4 linked regions of the Homo sapiens genome follow. The protein of the gene in region 1 purifies or fractionates together with the protein of each later gene. This does not show direct contact. Each region holds a gene or a part of one and is shown on either strand. Other genes may lie near its edges.

Region 1 (3,500 bases):
GGCCATATTAATCTTCATCATCAAAATTTTAGCACATGTCCTATGAGAGAATGTACATACCTTCTCACTGAAATTTCTGACAGAAAAAGATTTTAGGTCCATAGAAGACAGTATTCTAAATCAATTATGGGATTAGAAAAATGATGGATACATGGGATTATAAAAAAGTCGAAGTTAACATGGATCCTTAATTATATTCAATCATTAACAGGGCAAAAAGAGCCATCAATTGGAGATAAGGCCTTTTGTATTAAAATTCGTTCTGCATTTATTCCCTTATTTTATTTTTTTTGAGACCGAGTCTAGTTCTGTCACCCAGGCTAGAGTGCAGTGGCACAATCTTGGCTCATTGCAACCTCTGCCTCCCAGTCCCAGGTTCAAGCGATTCTCCTGCCTCAGCCTCCCAAGTAGCTGAGATTACAGGCACCCACCACCATGCTAATATTTGTATTTTTAGTAGAGACGGGGTTTCACTGTGTTGGTCAGGCTGGTCTCGAACTCCTGACCTCATGATCCGCCCACCTCAGCCTCCCAAAATGCTGGGATTACCAGCACGAGCCACCGCGCCCGGCCTATTCCCCTATTTTTAAGACAGGACATAGGGGTTTTTCTTCAGCAAGTATACCTAACCACTCTGTGACAATCACAATTAAAATTTTTCTGTGTGGAATGTCAAGATTTAAGAAGTACTTAGTGGTTCACACCCATAATCCCAGTGGTTTGGGAGGCTAAGGCAGAAAGATGGCTTGAGTCCAGGAGTTCCAGATCAACCTGGGCAATATAATGAGACCCTGTCTTGACAAAAAAATTTAAAAATTAGCTGAGTGTGGTGGTGCACACCTGTAGTCTCTGCTATTCAGGAGGCTGAAGCAAGAGGACCGCTTGAGCCCAGGAGGTCGAGGATGCAGTGAGCTATGATCATGCCACTGCACTGCAGCCTGAGCAATAGAGCAAGACACTGTCTCTAAAAAAAAAAAAAAGCAATCAACCAACCAATCAACAAACAAAAGAATACATGTACTCAATCTACCAAGGGTAAGCACTCATGTTAGATACTTTCATATATTTTTTTACTATCACTATGATACTTTACAGATGAGGAAATTGAGACCAGAAGGCTAAATTTTTGGCCTAAACTTTTCCAAGGCCAAAATGCTAGTAAATGACTAAGCTAGGATTCACATCTCTTCAATCTATGTCTAGTATACTACATCTCGATTCACTCTTCCTTTTCCACATGTTTAGCTACTCACTACATTCAATTGGTTCTTAGAAGACATGGTAATCACTAAAAGGTCTAACTTCATGCAGTCTCATCATAATGGAACCCTGAACACAAATACAATATATGACCAAAGACAAAAAGTGATTTTTAAAATCACTCTATAAAATTTTCAAAAGAACTAACTATTTAAAAAATGTTTACTGAGTGCTCTCTGGGTCAAGACATCATAGTAGGCAATGGAAATAAGACATGTAAGAATATTACTGATCTATCTCTATTGTCTTGAAGGGCAGTCTATTAAAAAGACAAATGTGATAAAAGAATTGTGATACAGCACAAAAAGCCAAAATGAAAAGCAAGAAATGAAGTAATCCTCAAGTTGGGTTTTGAAAGATAAGCAGCAGTCTGGCCACATTAGGGGTGGAGGTGGGATTCAATATTGCAAAGGAGGAAACAGAATGTTTGAAAGCACTGAGGCCTAACACATCACAGCACATTAAAGGAGCTCTTACATAATACAGAAATGACAGAGATTAGAGAGGATGCAAGGGTGGAGTTTAAAGGTTTCTAAGCAAGGGAGTAACAATCAAATTAGCCTTTCAGAAATCACTCTGGGGCTGGGCGTGGTGGATCACACCTGTAATCCCAGCACTTTGGGAGGCCGAGGTGGGTGGATCGCTTGAGGTCAGGAGTTCAACTCCAGCCGCCTGGGCGACATGGTGAAATCTCATCTCTACTAAAAATACAAAAATTAGCTGGGTGTGGTGGTGCCCACCTGTAATCCCACCTACTTGGGAGGCCGAGGCAGGAGAATTGCTTGAACCCGGAAGGCAGAGGTTGCAGTGAGCCAAGAATGAACCATTGCACTCCAGTCTGGGTAATAGAGCCAGACTCCTTCTTTAAAAAAAAAAAAAAAAAAAAGTCCAGGCACAGTGGCTCACGCCTATAATCCCAACACTTTGGGAGGCCAAGGCGGGCAGATCACGAGGTCAGGAGTTCGAGACCATCCTGGCTAACAGGGTGAAACCCCGTCTCTACTAAAAATACACAAAATTAGCCAGGCGTGGTGGCGGGCGCCTGTAGTCCCAGCTACTCAGGAGGCTGAGGCAGGAGAATGGCGTGAACCCAGGAGGCAGTTTGCAGTGAGCCGAGATTGCGCCACTGCACTCCAGCCTGGGCGACAGAGCGAGACTCCATCAAACAAACAAACAAATAAAAAGAAAAGGCCAGGCGCAGTGGCTCACCCCTGTAATCTCAGCACTTTCAGAGGCCAAGGTGGGTGGATCATGAGGTAAAGAGATGGAGACCATCCTGGTCAACATGGTGAAAACCCCGTCTCTACTAAAAAAAAAAAAAAAAAAAATTAGTTGGGCGTGGTGGTGCACGGCTGTAGTCCCAGCTACTCAGGAGGCTGAGGCAGGAGAATCACTTGAACCCAGGAGGTGGAGGCTGCAGTGAGCAGAGATCGCCCACTGCACTCCAGCCTTGCAACAGAGCGAGACTCCGTCTAAATAGAAATCACTCTGGGCTGTGCACTGTGGCCCATGTGTGTAATCCCAGCAACTTGGGAGGCTGAGTGGGAGGACTGCTTGAAGCCAGGAGTTCAAGACCAGCCTGGGCAACATAGCGATATCCTGTCTCTAAAAAAATTTTTTTAATTAAAAAAAATCCCCAGATTTCTGACCACGTGGAAAATAATGCAACTAAAGGTAGGAAGGTAGGAACAGAAGAAGCAGCTAGTTTTTTTGTTTGTTTTTTTGAGATGGAGTCTTGCTGTGTCACCCAGGCTGGAGTGCAGTGGCACGATCTCTGCTCACTGCAAGCTCCACCTCCCAGGTTTATGCCATTCTCCTGCCTCAGCCTCCTGAGTAGCTGGGACTACAGGTGCCCGCCACCATGCCTGGCTAATTTTTTTGTATTTTTAGTAGAGATGGGGTTTCACCGTGTTAGCCAGGATGGTCTCGATCTCCTGACCTTGTGATCTGCCCACTTGACCTTCCAAAATGCTGGGATTACAGGCATGAGAAAGAGCTAGTTTAAGAACAGATGATAGGCCGGGTGGGGTGGTTCATGCCTGTAATCCCACCATTTTCGGAGGCCGAGACGGGTGGATCACGAGGTCAGGAGATCCAGATCATCCTGGCCAACATGGTGAAACCCTGTCTCTACTAAAAATACAAAAAAAAATTAGCTGGGCGTGGTGGTGGGTGCCTGTAGTCCCAGCTACTCGGGAGGCTGAGGCAGAAGAATGGCATGAACCCGGGAGGCAGAGCTT
Region 2 (2,199 bases), on another chromosome or scaffold:
TATGACAGTAAGATGTATGTTGGGGGAGGAGGCAGAAACGAATGGAAGGAATAGGACGGTGAAGAAAGGGACATTACTAAAGTTGAGCATTGGTATAGTGAGTAGTAAATAAAGGTACAAAATATTAGGTCTATTCTTTAATAGACTGAGAAGTACCAGCTTGATCTAATTGACCAAAAAAAAAAAAAAATGAATTAAGAAAAAACATTTGGACGAAAAGACCAGTTGGCAATCTACTACAATGGTCCAGGGCAGAGTGCAAGAGCCACAGAGAGATAGAAGACTGGTCAAAGAACTTGGGGTTGGCCAGTCATGCAGGGCATGATAAGCCCAGGAAAGGAGGTTGGGATCGTTTCTTCTTTGGTTTTGAGGAAGGGTTTGTCATGGTGTGATTTACGTTTTGAAAACACTGCTGTGGCTTCAGTGTGATGAATAAGCTGAAGCCGGCAAGGAGTAGAGGCAGGAACAACAGTCAGGAGACCAGTGCAGGAGTCCAGCTGGATGAGGAAGATGACAAATGTCAGGCATTCCTGCCAGATGGCCAGGACCCAGACTTGAGTGGTCACCACAGAAATCAGGTGGGAGAGAAATTTGAGAGGCACCACTAAGGAGAATAATCAGAGTGTGGTGGTTAAGAAGTAAGTATAAGACAGGATGATAAGGTTTGGAGTCTGGGACCTCAAAAAAAGGAGAGAATGAAGGCTTACAGCCTGGGTGAAGCATTAGACCTAGGGATATAGATTTGGGCATCAGAACAAGGGATAAGTGAAACCAACAGATAGAACTAAGTCTCATGTGAGCATAGGAATAAATGAAAGCCACAGAGTCTTGCAGAAGTCCACAATCAAAGGTAAGTGGAGAAGACTTTTTAAAAAACCCATGATGGTGCAATGGCCCTGAAAGAGAAAAGGGTTTTAAGGTGGCAATTGTTTCATTTTATATTTGAACTTGGTTGGAAGTTTTGGCAAATGATAGGTAATCACAAAGGACAGTGCAGAGTGGTAATTAACGTCTTTTCCAAGAGACACTGCTCCCAAAGTCAATTAGAATGTACACTCTTTTGGTTAGGTAAAATTAAGTCTTGCTTTAATGAAAAAAGTTCCTACCATTTAGATTTATCACAGATAATATTAAAGCCTCTTGATTATTCAGGACAGATTGATTAATCAACTTCATTGTTTTCTACCCTGTTGTCTGCCTTAGGTTATTTCATTACTCATTAGTACTTCTGTTTGATTCTAGGCTGGGGGAAAAAAAAATCAATGGAGAAAATAGAAAGTCTTTTTTTAGGTTAGTAATTATGAAAAGAAATGTGGGGGATGATGAAGGGAAATGGATACAATTACCAATCAAATTGGATTTGGCAGTTATATGACACCTTCAGTCATGGAACCTGTTCTTGTTCCTTCAGAGCTGGTATTTCCATTTGCTTTGTTTAGTAAATATGCATCATTTGTTGAACACAGCTGCCATTTTGCCTAGTTTATGTTATTAAAAAAACAAACCCCTGATGCTATCAGGGCCTGAAAACCTACAGAGAGAACAATGTTTAGGATTCTAGTCTCCATTTTCTCTAGGCCCTATGTCACTTTATTGCTTTGCATCTGTTTTCATCAAAAATAAAAATTTCACTTTGTAATGAGTCATAAATTTGTAAAGAAAAGCTAAAATTAAACTTGTTTCAAAGTTATTACAGGAAACTAAGCATATGTTGGAATTGAAGGGATCTTGATCTCAAAAAACTTCAACATTTACTGAGCTAAATATAGAGAAAAAGACATAGTTACCCAAATAAACTCAAAATGTAATTTATTTCCATTAATAAACTTTTTTTCTGGTAATGAATATTATAAATGATAACCTTCATGTGCTCTTAGGATTCCAAACAGCTTTCAGAATCATTTTATTGCCATTTTAATGTTAAAACTTATTTATTTTCTCATTCTTTAAAAATCAGTAAATCAAGTTTAACTCTGAGTTATTAGATATTGTGTCAAAACATCCCAGTTCCTTATTGGCGTGGATGAACAAGAAGTAACTTATTGTACGAAGACTTTATTTACATATCCACTTATCTTTTTTGACTGTTTCTTGCACTTAAACACATGTAGAAATACGTTCCTAAGTACTAAACAGTTAGCTTTTGAGCTAGAAAAGAGAAAAGATAAAGACAGAATCACCAATGTCACTGCTACATAA
Region 3 (4,232 bases), on another chromosome or scaffold:
CTGGCCACCAGCCACACGGCCCCAGTCCTCCCCAGCGCACCTGCCCCCAGCTTCCCTCCCCAGCTTCCCTCAAGATGGCCCCTCTGCTTGACTTCCTGTCTTATGGAGAGGGTCAAGGCTTGCATCCCTCCTCCCACTCCAGCTTCAGGGGCCATCTACCTGATGCCACTCCCATCCCCAGGCCCCTCCACTGGAGACTCCTGCTAGAGCAGCCACTGCACACTTGCCACCCATGCCTGGAACCCAAATAGCGCTGAGCATCGCAAGTGCTTGGGCCAGACCCATGGAGGTGCCTCCACTCCCTCTATCCCGTCCCACGTCCTGCCACCTCCCACATTCCTTTCAGGGGCCAGCCCCTCTCCCCACCTGTCCAGCCCCTCCCCTGGGTGCCCCCAGCCTGCTGCCTCGCCCCTCTGCAAAGCCTGGCCATGCCCCCTTCCCACTAAGGGGCAAGTCAGACTTGTTAGCCTCCGGGGTGGAGCTCGCTTCCCCTCCAACCTCACTCCCAGCCCCTCTGCCTCCCCCACTGAGCCTGACTCGGCAGCATGCTCCAACTGCAGGGCCTCGGCACGGCTCCTCCTTGGTGCAGAGCTGTCCCTTGGCTCTTCGTAGGTCCCTCCTCATCATTTTCAACTCAAATGTCCCCTCCTCAGAGAGGTCTTCCCTGCCTGGCCTAGCTGGAGAGTCCCCACTCTGGGTACCCCTCAGACACGCAGCCCTGTCTCACAGGCTTCACAGCAACCAGCGGCACTGAGATGCTCACCTAGGCTGTGTCCCCCTCCTCGAGGGCAGGAACCTGGTCTCTCTAGTTCACGGTTCCTAGGAGGGGACCTGGCATATCTGAGGAGGCCAGGAGAAGGTGCTGCTTGATTGAGCTCTCTCGCGAGAGTGGGGCAGGGGCGGAGAGGCCAGCACCCACCACAGGATGCACAGGAGCAGCAGCTGATGGAGTTGGCTAAGTCCTGCTCTCCACCCCTCCCACCCAGACACCCCAGGGAGGGACATGGTGACCTGCAGCCCTCAGAAAGCCAGCATGGCAGTGCTAGGCACTCTTCGTGAACCTGGACCCTAGCTCTCCTGCCCGGGAGGAACACGCCACCAACAACCTAGATGCATCAGCGCCTGGGGCCAATCTTGGCTTCAATCGCCACACTGGGCGGCCCCAGCACCTGTATATGTGCAGGGGTTCCCACAGCCCAGGCCCTGGACTCAACAATGGTGCTCACATTCATTGGTAGCAGGTGAGGATCTGATCATGGATGAGGATGGGGAAGGCTCCCCACCTACAGTGAGCTCCTCGGGGTAGCCCTGGCCTCTTTCCAGAAGGGGCAACTCTCTCTGCTTCACCATCAGCACGGAGGACTAGAGGTTGACGGTCAGTACCTAGGACAGCGCCAAGCATCAAGCTGGCCACGCCCCACCAAGGCAAGCAGGACCCTCACTAGAGCACCAGTCCTCCCCAGCTCCTCCTGGTCCATTTCCCACCACCTCTCACTCCAGTTACAGCACCAGCCTCCTAACGGGCTTCTCTGCCTCCACCTTCACTCCCTGCTGTCAGCATCCCGGAAAGATGTGAAAATAGAAACTGAGGAGCCACATGTGTCTGTAGGAAGGGCAGGCTGGAGGCTCTGACCTCCACCTTTGTGTCAATTTCTGCGTTAAACTGAGGCAGCCTGAGGAACTCACCAGACTCACAGACCACAGAGCCGGGCCGAAGCTCCAACATCATGGTGATGAGGGCGATGTCTGTGGAGTAGAGGATCTGCGTGCGGTGCGGCAGGTTCAGCGTCCAGAGCTCGGGCGTGGGGTGCAGCACATACACCCAGCCACCTCGGCCGCACGTCACCTTGGAGCCGAAGGGGCGGCCGATAAGGTCAACTGAGTGCCGCAGGACACCATGCCGGGTCTGGGTCTGTGCCCCACGCTGCACACGCACCGCCACCATTGCACCATGGCCCAGTGACAGGATGGCCGTGTCACCCTCCTTGATCAGCTCCTCGTATGCCACGAAGCTCATGGTGCTAATGTCTGGCAAGGGCCAAGGACCTGGGGAGGGGTGTGTGTAGGCATGAGCAAGTCAGGAGGCAGGATGAGGGCCTAGGGTCTAGGTAGAAGGCTTCGAGGCCTACATCCCAGCAGTGGGCATGGGCGGGGTGTGGCTAGCTCAGCCTCAGTCTCTGCCACTGCCTGACAGGGAGCCCAATAGCGCTGCACTCTGGCCTGGCCTCTGAAGCCTTTCTTGGTCTAGGACAAGAGACAGGGACTATGAGCCTAAATCAGAGATGAAAAGACTGAGGCTTGGCAATGGCGGAGTTCGGTCCCAAGGATTCCCGGAGTGAGGACCCGACCCTCCCATCACCCTTCTCCAGGAGCTTGACTCCCATTCCCAAGATGTGAGATGAGGAAGCGCCTTTGCGAGGTGTCCACCGGCGGGGGAGAGGCAAATGGTCAATGAGGTCACCTCCAAGCCAGGCTTGATTCCTCACCCCAGTCTCCCCCACGGGGGCTAGGTGGCAGGGTATGACAGAGGATTCAGGGCTCCCCAGTAAGGGGCTGGGGACGCGGAGCTGGCCGTCCACGCAAACACCGCCCAGCCGATGCAGAGGCAACAAGGGGCCAGGCCGGGCCGGCGGGGGCCGCCCATGCGAGGCTGGAGGGACAGGCCCTGCGCGCCGTGCCCGGCCCGGGTCACCCTCACCCGCGCCCTGCCACCCTGTACCCCGCGGAGTCTCACCTGCGACGCTCCTGCTGCCGGGGCTCCACACGTGCCTCCGCGACGCGCGGCGGCGGCGGCCACAACACTTCCGGCTCCGCGCCCGCTGATGACGTCGCGCCCCGCCTCCGCCTCCCCCTCCCCCCCTCCGCGCACGGGATCCTGGGAGCGCCAGGCTGCCCTTCCCGCCCCTCCCAGAGGACGTTTCCTGGGCGACTTCTTCCCTCATGTGAGCTGCTCTGTTTACATTTGCTGGTCGCTGGAAGATCGAAAGACTGGACAAAATCCATATGGCGGCCGGCCGGCGCGGTGGCTCTCGCCTGTGATCCCGCGCTTTGGGAGGCCGAGGCGGGAGGTTCTTCTGAGCTGAAGAGTTCGAGACCAGCCCGGGAAACGTAGTGAGACCCCCACCATCTCTACAAATAATAACAAACAAACAAAAGGTCCCCCCGCCCCGCCGGCCGCGGGTTGCCGTCGCACCCAGGCACATTTGAAGGGCGGCAGGAGCCAAGGCCTGGCTGTCACTGCTGTCCCGGACCCCTTTGACGGCCCCTGGGGGTTCACCAGAGGGCTGGCCCGTGGCTCACTGCCCAGTCCTCTATGAGGACACTTCGCCATAGACATTTTGTTATTGCAGACTGCTCTGGGAACACCCCTGACTGGGCCCTAAAATGAATTCCAGAAAAGGAATCGCAGGTCAAGGGGCGGTTCTAAAAGGCTTGGGCTAGGGTCAGCCAGAGCTCTGTGCAGCAGATGGGGGCCTGGAAAAGTCTGCAGAAGTGGCCTTCCGCCCAGGCCCTGCCTCCCCCGACGGGGGCACGTTGTCCTGAGTGCAGAGCTGCTTCTAGGAGGGAGTAGGGGTCCTGTGTCCCCTCCTGCGAACCAAGGCATAATGAGAACTGGATGACTTGGGCCCACTTTTGGGTCTGGTGAGCAGCCTGGGCAGGAGACTGGAGGAGGTGCTGCTGGAGGATGGGCAGAACAGGGAAGCGGGAGTGGCGTTCTGTCTCAGCAACACCATTCCCAGCTGGCTCCTCTGTGGAGTGTGTGTGCAGGGGAGCGGGGGCAGGGGACACGGATTTTCTTCCTCCAGCTCTTAGCTCTCAGGACCAGAGCTTGGAGAGGAACAGAGACCCCCCTACCCAGCCTAGGGTTTAGCCTGCGCCCGAACCCAAGCCAGTTAGCAATGACCCTAGGGCACCCTCCCCAGTCACTCAGCCACTCCAGCCTGGTAAGATGAGGTGGCCAGGCTCCTGCAGAGCGAGCTCCCCTCTGGAGCCCTGGCAGCCTGTAGAGCACTCTCAACTCTCTCGCCTCTGGGGCAGGCCAGGCCAGGCTGTTTGTGGCCCTTGCATTGGCTTCTCAGGGTCCATCATGGAAACCTAGGGGTCCAACCTCAGCCCCTCTGTGTCCCTGCCCTAGCTGCGGCTGAGAGCCCCCAGGAGTAAGCTGGTGAGAGGCCTTCCATGGCCTCCCACTCTCTGTGGGCTCCTGTCCCTGTGGGGCCACCACGCTGGCC
Region 4 (4,154 bases), on another chromosome or scaffold:
TTGTTGTTGTTGTTTTCAAGTTTTATCATTTTTGTTCCTATTTGGTTTTGTCGTTTTTAAATTGAGAATTGCTTCTAAAACAGAAGACATGAAAAGAGAATTAAAAATACAATATATGTGTAAGATAGAATTATTCAACTTAGCATTTATTAAACATCTACCAGATGATAGACATTAGAAATAAAATGACTAGCAAGACCTGGCCCTTCCCCTCAGGGGTTCACAGAATGGCTGGAGCAACTGTCATATAAGCTGTTATGAAGTGCAGAAACTACACAGACATTTGTGCGGGTTCAGACCAGCGCAATTAGAGATGGGCAGAGTGGGATGGGGTAGGGGTAAGGTGCTTGAAATTTGCCTGGGTGGGAATTTTTGAAGTATAAAAAGGACTTCTACCTGGGGGGCTGCGGCAGTAGAGGGAAGAGCACGGTCGGTACAAATGCATGGCAGGTGTGAAACAGTTTGATTTGTTCAAAGAATGATGAATCACTTAGTGTTGTATAATGGATGGGAGGAGAGAAACACAGCGATCACAAAGGGCCATGTTTGCCAAGAAATAAAATATACTTGGAAAAAAAGTACGTATGTGTATATACCACAAAACTCGGGTGCATTCTCTAGGGACCGGCGAAGCCATTCTTTCAGGAGATATGCTCAGCATTTGCCACGGGCCAGCTGCTGTTCCAGGTCGTGGGTTAGGGCCCGGCACCAGGAAGGGCGCCCCTCCCACAGGGCCGACATCCTAACCGGCGTCGCTGCGGCCGCGGAGCTGGGAAGGCCGAGGGCGCCGGGCACGTCTGTGCAGATTTCTTTAGAGTCCAGGTCTGTCGCCCGCGTCTTCGTCGGTGGCAGCAGGGCTGACTGGCCACGGCGGCCATCTGCTAGAGCGCATTTCTTCCCATGAAACGCCACCTCCTCCGAAGTGCGGAGCGAACGCAGCCAAATCTACACAAAGACTGACAAGCTGGATCCACTCGACGGAACCCAGGGCCAAAAAACGGCGGCGAGCAGCGCCTCGGGCCCGCGATTACCGGTTTTCTGAGCACCGGACAGCGTGAGCCGTGCCAGCCCTGTCTCGCCATCCCAGCCGAGGAGGGCAGCGCGATGGCTCTTCCCTGCCTTGAAATCAACCCCATTGCCAGCCGCTTTCGCCGGCAGAGCATTTTCCGTGGGGTCCATCCGGCTCCAAGGCGGCCTGCGCTGGCCACGTGGAAAGAAACACGCCCACTGCCTACAGGCCACGCCCTTCCTCCCTTCGCGCATGCGCCCCACCCGTCCTGAGGACCTCCGAACCTGCAGGGGGCGATGAAAGTAGGCTTGCGCTCCGCTTGTAGCTGCTTCCGGGTCAGAGGTCAGACGGTCTAGCGCTGCGTGGGCCATGGTGCAGCTCCGACCGCGAGCGTCTCGCGCCCCGGCGTCGGCGGAGGCGATGGTGGACGAGGGCCAGCTGGCCTCGGAGGAGGAGGAGGCGGAGCACGGGCTGTTGCTCGGGCAGCCCAGCAGCGGCGCGGCCGCCGAGCCCCTGGAGGAAGACGAGGAAGGGGACGATGAGTTTGACGATGAGGCCCCGGAGGAGCTGACTTTCGCCAGCGCCCAGGCGGAAGCGAGAGAAGAGGAGCGGCGAGTGCGGGAGACCGTGCGCAGGTTCGGAGCCCGCTGCCCGGCGGGGAGAACCGCCCTTTCTCGTCCCGCTTGTCCTTCCCTTTGCTGACTTATCACCCTTCCTCCCAGGGATAAAACGCTCCTGAAGGAGAAGAGGAAGCGACGCGAGGAGCTGTTCATCGAACAGAAGGTTAGAGGCTAGGGAGGAGGTGTCTTATTAAAACAACTCGGCTCAGGGAGAATTCCTATGGTGGATGTAATTTGGGTTGGCAGGATATTGGAGTGGGGAAACAGTCACCAAGATTGCCTCTGACAGTGGTGGAAAGATGCTCGGGCCGGGCGCGGCAGTACTTTAGTTGGACGAGGTGGGCGGAGCCCGGGATGTCGAGGCTGCCTGGAGCCGAGATCACACCACTGCGCTCCAGCCTGGGCGACAGAGCGAGACCCTGTCTCAAAAAAAAAAAGTTCGTCTCCTTTAGTGTCCACCAACTGAAAATAAGAGGTTGCTGTGAGAATTAAATGAGGTGATTTGTAAACTGTAAGGGCTGTACAGACTTAGTGTATGGTTGCTTTGCTGTCTGATACTCGACACAGAGAGCTGGCTCCAGGCAGACATTACTTAACTGCTTTCAATTTATAACAGTGACCTGAGGGTTAGAATACCGTGGGCACCCTTTCTAGTTTTCATCAAGTCTTTCAGAGAATGTGGAGTTTTGTGGACCCGGTCTTCCCATAGCTTAGAGGTATGGGGGCAGTTTCCAGCCTAATTCATTTCTTTGCCTAGATGTAGGGCATTCTTAAAAGCGGTAACTTCAGAAGCAACTCCGGACATACTATGTACATGACTTTCTATTAATTTTAAACGTTTTCATTCCAAAAGAAAAGAAAACTCCTTCCAGACACTATTTTGGAGAAGTTAACCACAGCTTCACAGACTAAGTAAGTAATGGATCTTTTTATATTACTTGCTTATATACACCCATCTTTGAATTATATACTGGTACATTTATTTGAATCCATATAACTGAAGGAATTGTAGAACCCAAATTCAAAAGCTACCTTGGTATATGAATTTGATGGGAAAGACGGAGGTAACGTTCTACTTCTTATTTTACCATTTATTTTTGTTCATTCCCATAGCTAGCTTTTGAATTCCTGATCCCATTGTGTTCATTCAGTACATTTTGTTGACTGCCTGTCATTGTACTAGGGCATAGTGGGTGGTGGTGAATAAAAAGTGTTTTGAATCATTTAGTGGGGTAGCAGGCACTTATCCACAGGCTCTGAAAACTTGATTTGTCCCATACTTGCCTTACCTGCCACCAACCTGTCCTTCCTGTTCCCCACTTCATTTAGCATCTTTGGTGTTTTATGGTTTAAAGCGAAAAGCTATAGTCGTCTTTGGGAATTGATCAAACCCTACTAAATTTAGCCTTCTAAATTTTTTTTTTTCTATCCTCTTTTTCTCCCCTTAAGGCTTTAAATTCAGAAATTCAGCCCCCTTTTGCTTAGGCCAGTGACTCTCAAGTTTTCAGTAAAAAAACTTTACCAAAGAGTTACTCAGATCCTGAATACATTAAACGTAAGAGCAAATCTATTTGGTGGCAAATTCCCTTTCATCTTTTAAAACCAAGCTCAAGTGTCACCTTTACCTTCTCATTTGCCCCCCCCCACCTCCCATCACTTCCGCTTTTGTGTGGCCTTTCTCCTGTGCAAATGCTTCTGTATTGTATTCTGTCCATTTACATTTCTCTCTCCATTGGGCCACAGCCCCCTTGAGGCTGTTCCCTGTCTCCTGTGCCTAAACTATTAAATTAATCCTTTGTGATTTCTCCAAATGAAATGAGGCAGACCTACTCCCATTCACTTCATATTTCAAATACTTTATAACTTGTTCTGAACAAGTGTTTCACTTGAACTCCATTGCCCACAGCATTTTGCTGCTTTGAAAGCCTGCTAATAGGCTCTCAGATTTTAACTGTGAAGATCTTCCAATGCTTGAGAGTTGGTGGCAGTGTACTAGGGAGTGACTATTGCTTTCCAAACTGATGAGAGCTCCTGAGTAGAAATTGAGGGTGTTGGTAATGAAAGGGGGTGTCTTACTTGTAAAGGCAAATGAAATAATATAACATGTTTTGAGTAATCTTTACTGCCATTGCAGTCAGTGGTTTTGTTTTTTTTCCTTAGCATCAAGAAATCGCCAGGAAAGGTGAAAGAAGGTATGACTATTCTAATTTAACTAACTTCTCATGTAAGTGTCAAGTGCACTTGCAGATGTTTCCAGTCAAATATGAATGGCCCTTAGAAAGCCAGCATGGGCCTGGCCAAGGTTAGCTGGGGCCTATTCCCTGTATTTCATACAAATAAAAACTGCATCCACATTGGTGTGTAGTGGATGCTTAAAGTGAACTCCAGTAAATTTCCTGATTTATTTTTACGTGAATGCTAATTAGAAAATGTAACTCTATTTTTTAGTTAATTTGCAAAAGAAAAATGAAGACTGTGAAAAAGGAAATGACTCCAAGAAAGTTAAAGTACAAAAAGTACAGTCT

What was found. Proteins that work in one complex are often made in the same cells at the same time.
Region 2: the proteins of SRP9 (region 1) and EPB41L2 purify together in Homo sapiens (affinity purification with mass spectrometry; one large-scale study listed by BioGRID and IntAct). This does not show direct contact.
Region 3: the proteins of SRP9 (region 1) and TRMT61A purify together in Homo sapiens (affinity purification with mass spectrometry; 2 studies listed by BioGRID and IntAct, with this or other methods). This does not show direct contact.
Region 4: the proteins of SRP9 (region 1) and NOL7 purify together in Homo sapiens (affinity purification with mass spectrometry; one large-scale study listed by BioGRID and IntAct). This does not show direct contact.

What each region holds. Positions count from the first base shown.
Region 1 is NC_000001.11:225,784,326-225,787,825, reverse strand, and holds part of SRP9 (signal recognition particle 9 kDa protein), read right to left. Parts: intron 965-3,500; coding exon of another isoform or gene 857-964; exon of another isoform or gene 841-856; intron 1-840. UniProt on the Homo sapiens protein: Component of the signal recognition particle (SRP) complex, a ribonucleoprotein complex that mediates the cotranslational targeting of secretory and membrane proteins to the endoplasmic reticulum (ER).
Region 2 is NC_000006.12:130,841,047-130,843,245, forward strand, and holds part of EPB41L2 (band 4.1-like protein 2), read right to left. Parts: intron 1-2,199. UniProt on the Homo sapiens protein: Required for dynein-dynactin complex and NUMA1 recruitment at the mitotic cell cortex during anaphase.
Region 3 is NC_000014.9:103,527,764-103,531,995, reverse strand, and holds the start of TRMT61A (tRNA (adenine(58)-N(1))-methyltransferase catalytic subunit TRMT61A), read right to left. Parts: upstream 2,801-4,232; 5' UTR 2,735-2,800; intron 2,047-2,734; 5' UTR 2,018-2,046; coding exon 1,687-2,017; intron 1-1,686. UniProt on the Homo sapiens protein: Catalytic subunit of tRNA (adenine-N(1)-)-methyltransferase, which catalyzes the formation of N(1)-methyladenine at position 58 (m1A58) in initiator methionyl-tRNA.
Region 4 is NC_000006.12:13,613,981-13,618,134, forward strand, and holds the start of NOL7 (U3 small nucleolar RNA-associated protein NOL7), read left to right. Parts: upstream 1-1,354; 5' UTR 1,355-1,378; coding exon 1,379-1,644; intron 1,645-1,731; coding exon 1,732-1,792; intron 1,793-2,482; coding exon 2,483-2,541; intron 2,542-3,789; coding exon 3,790-3,821; intron 3,822-4,077; coding exon 4,078-4,154.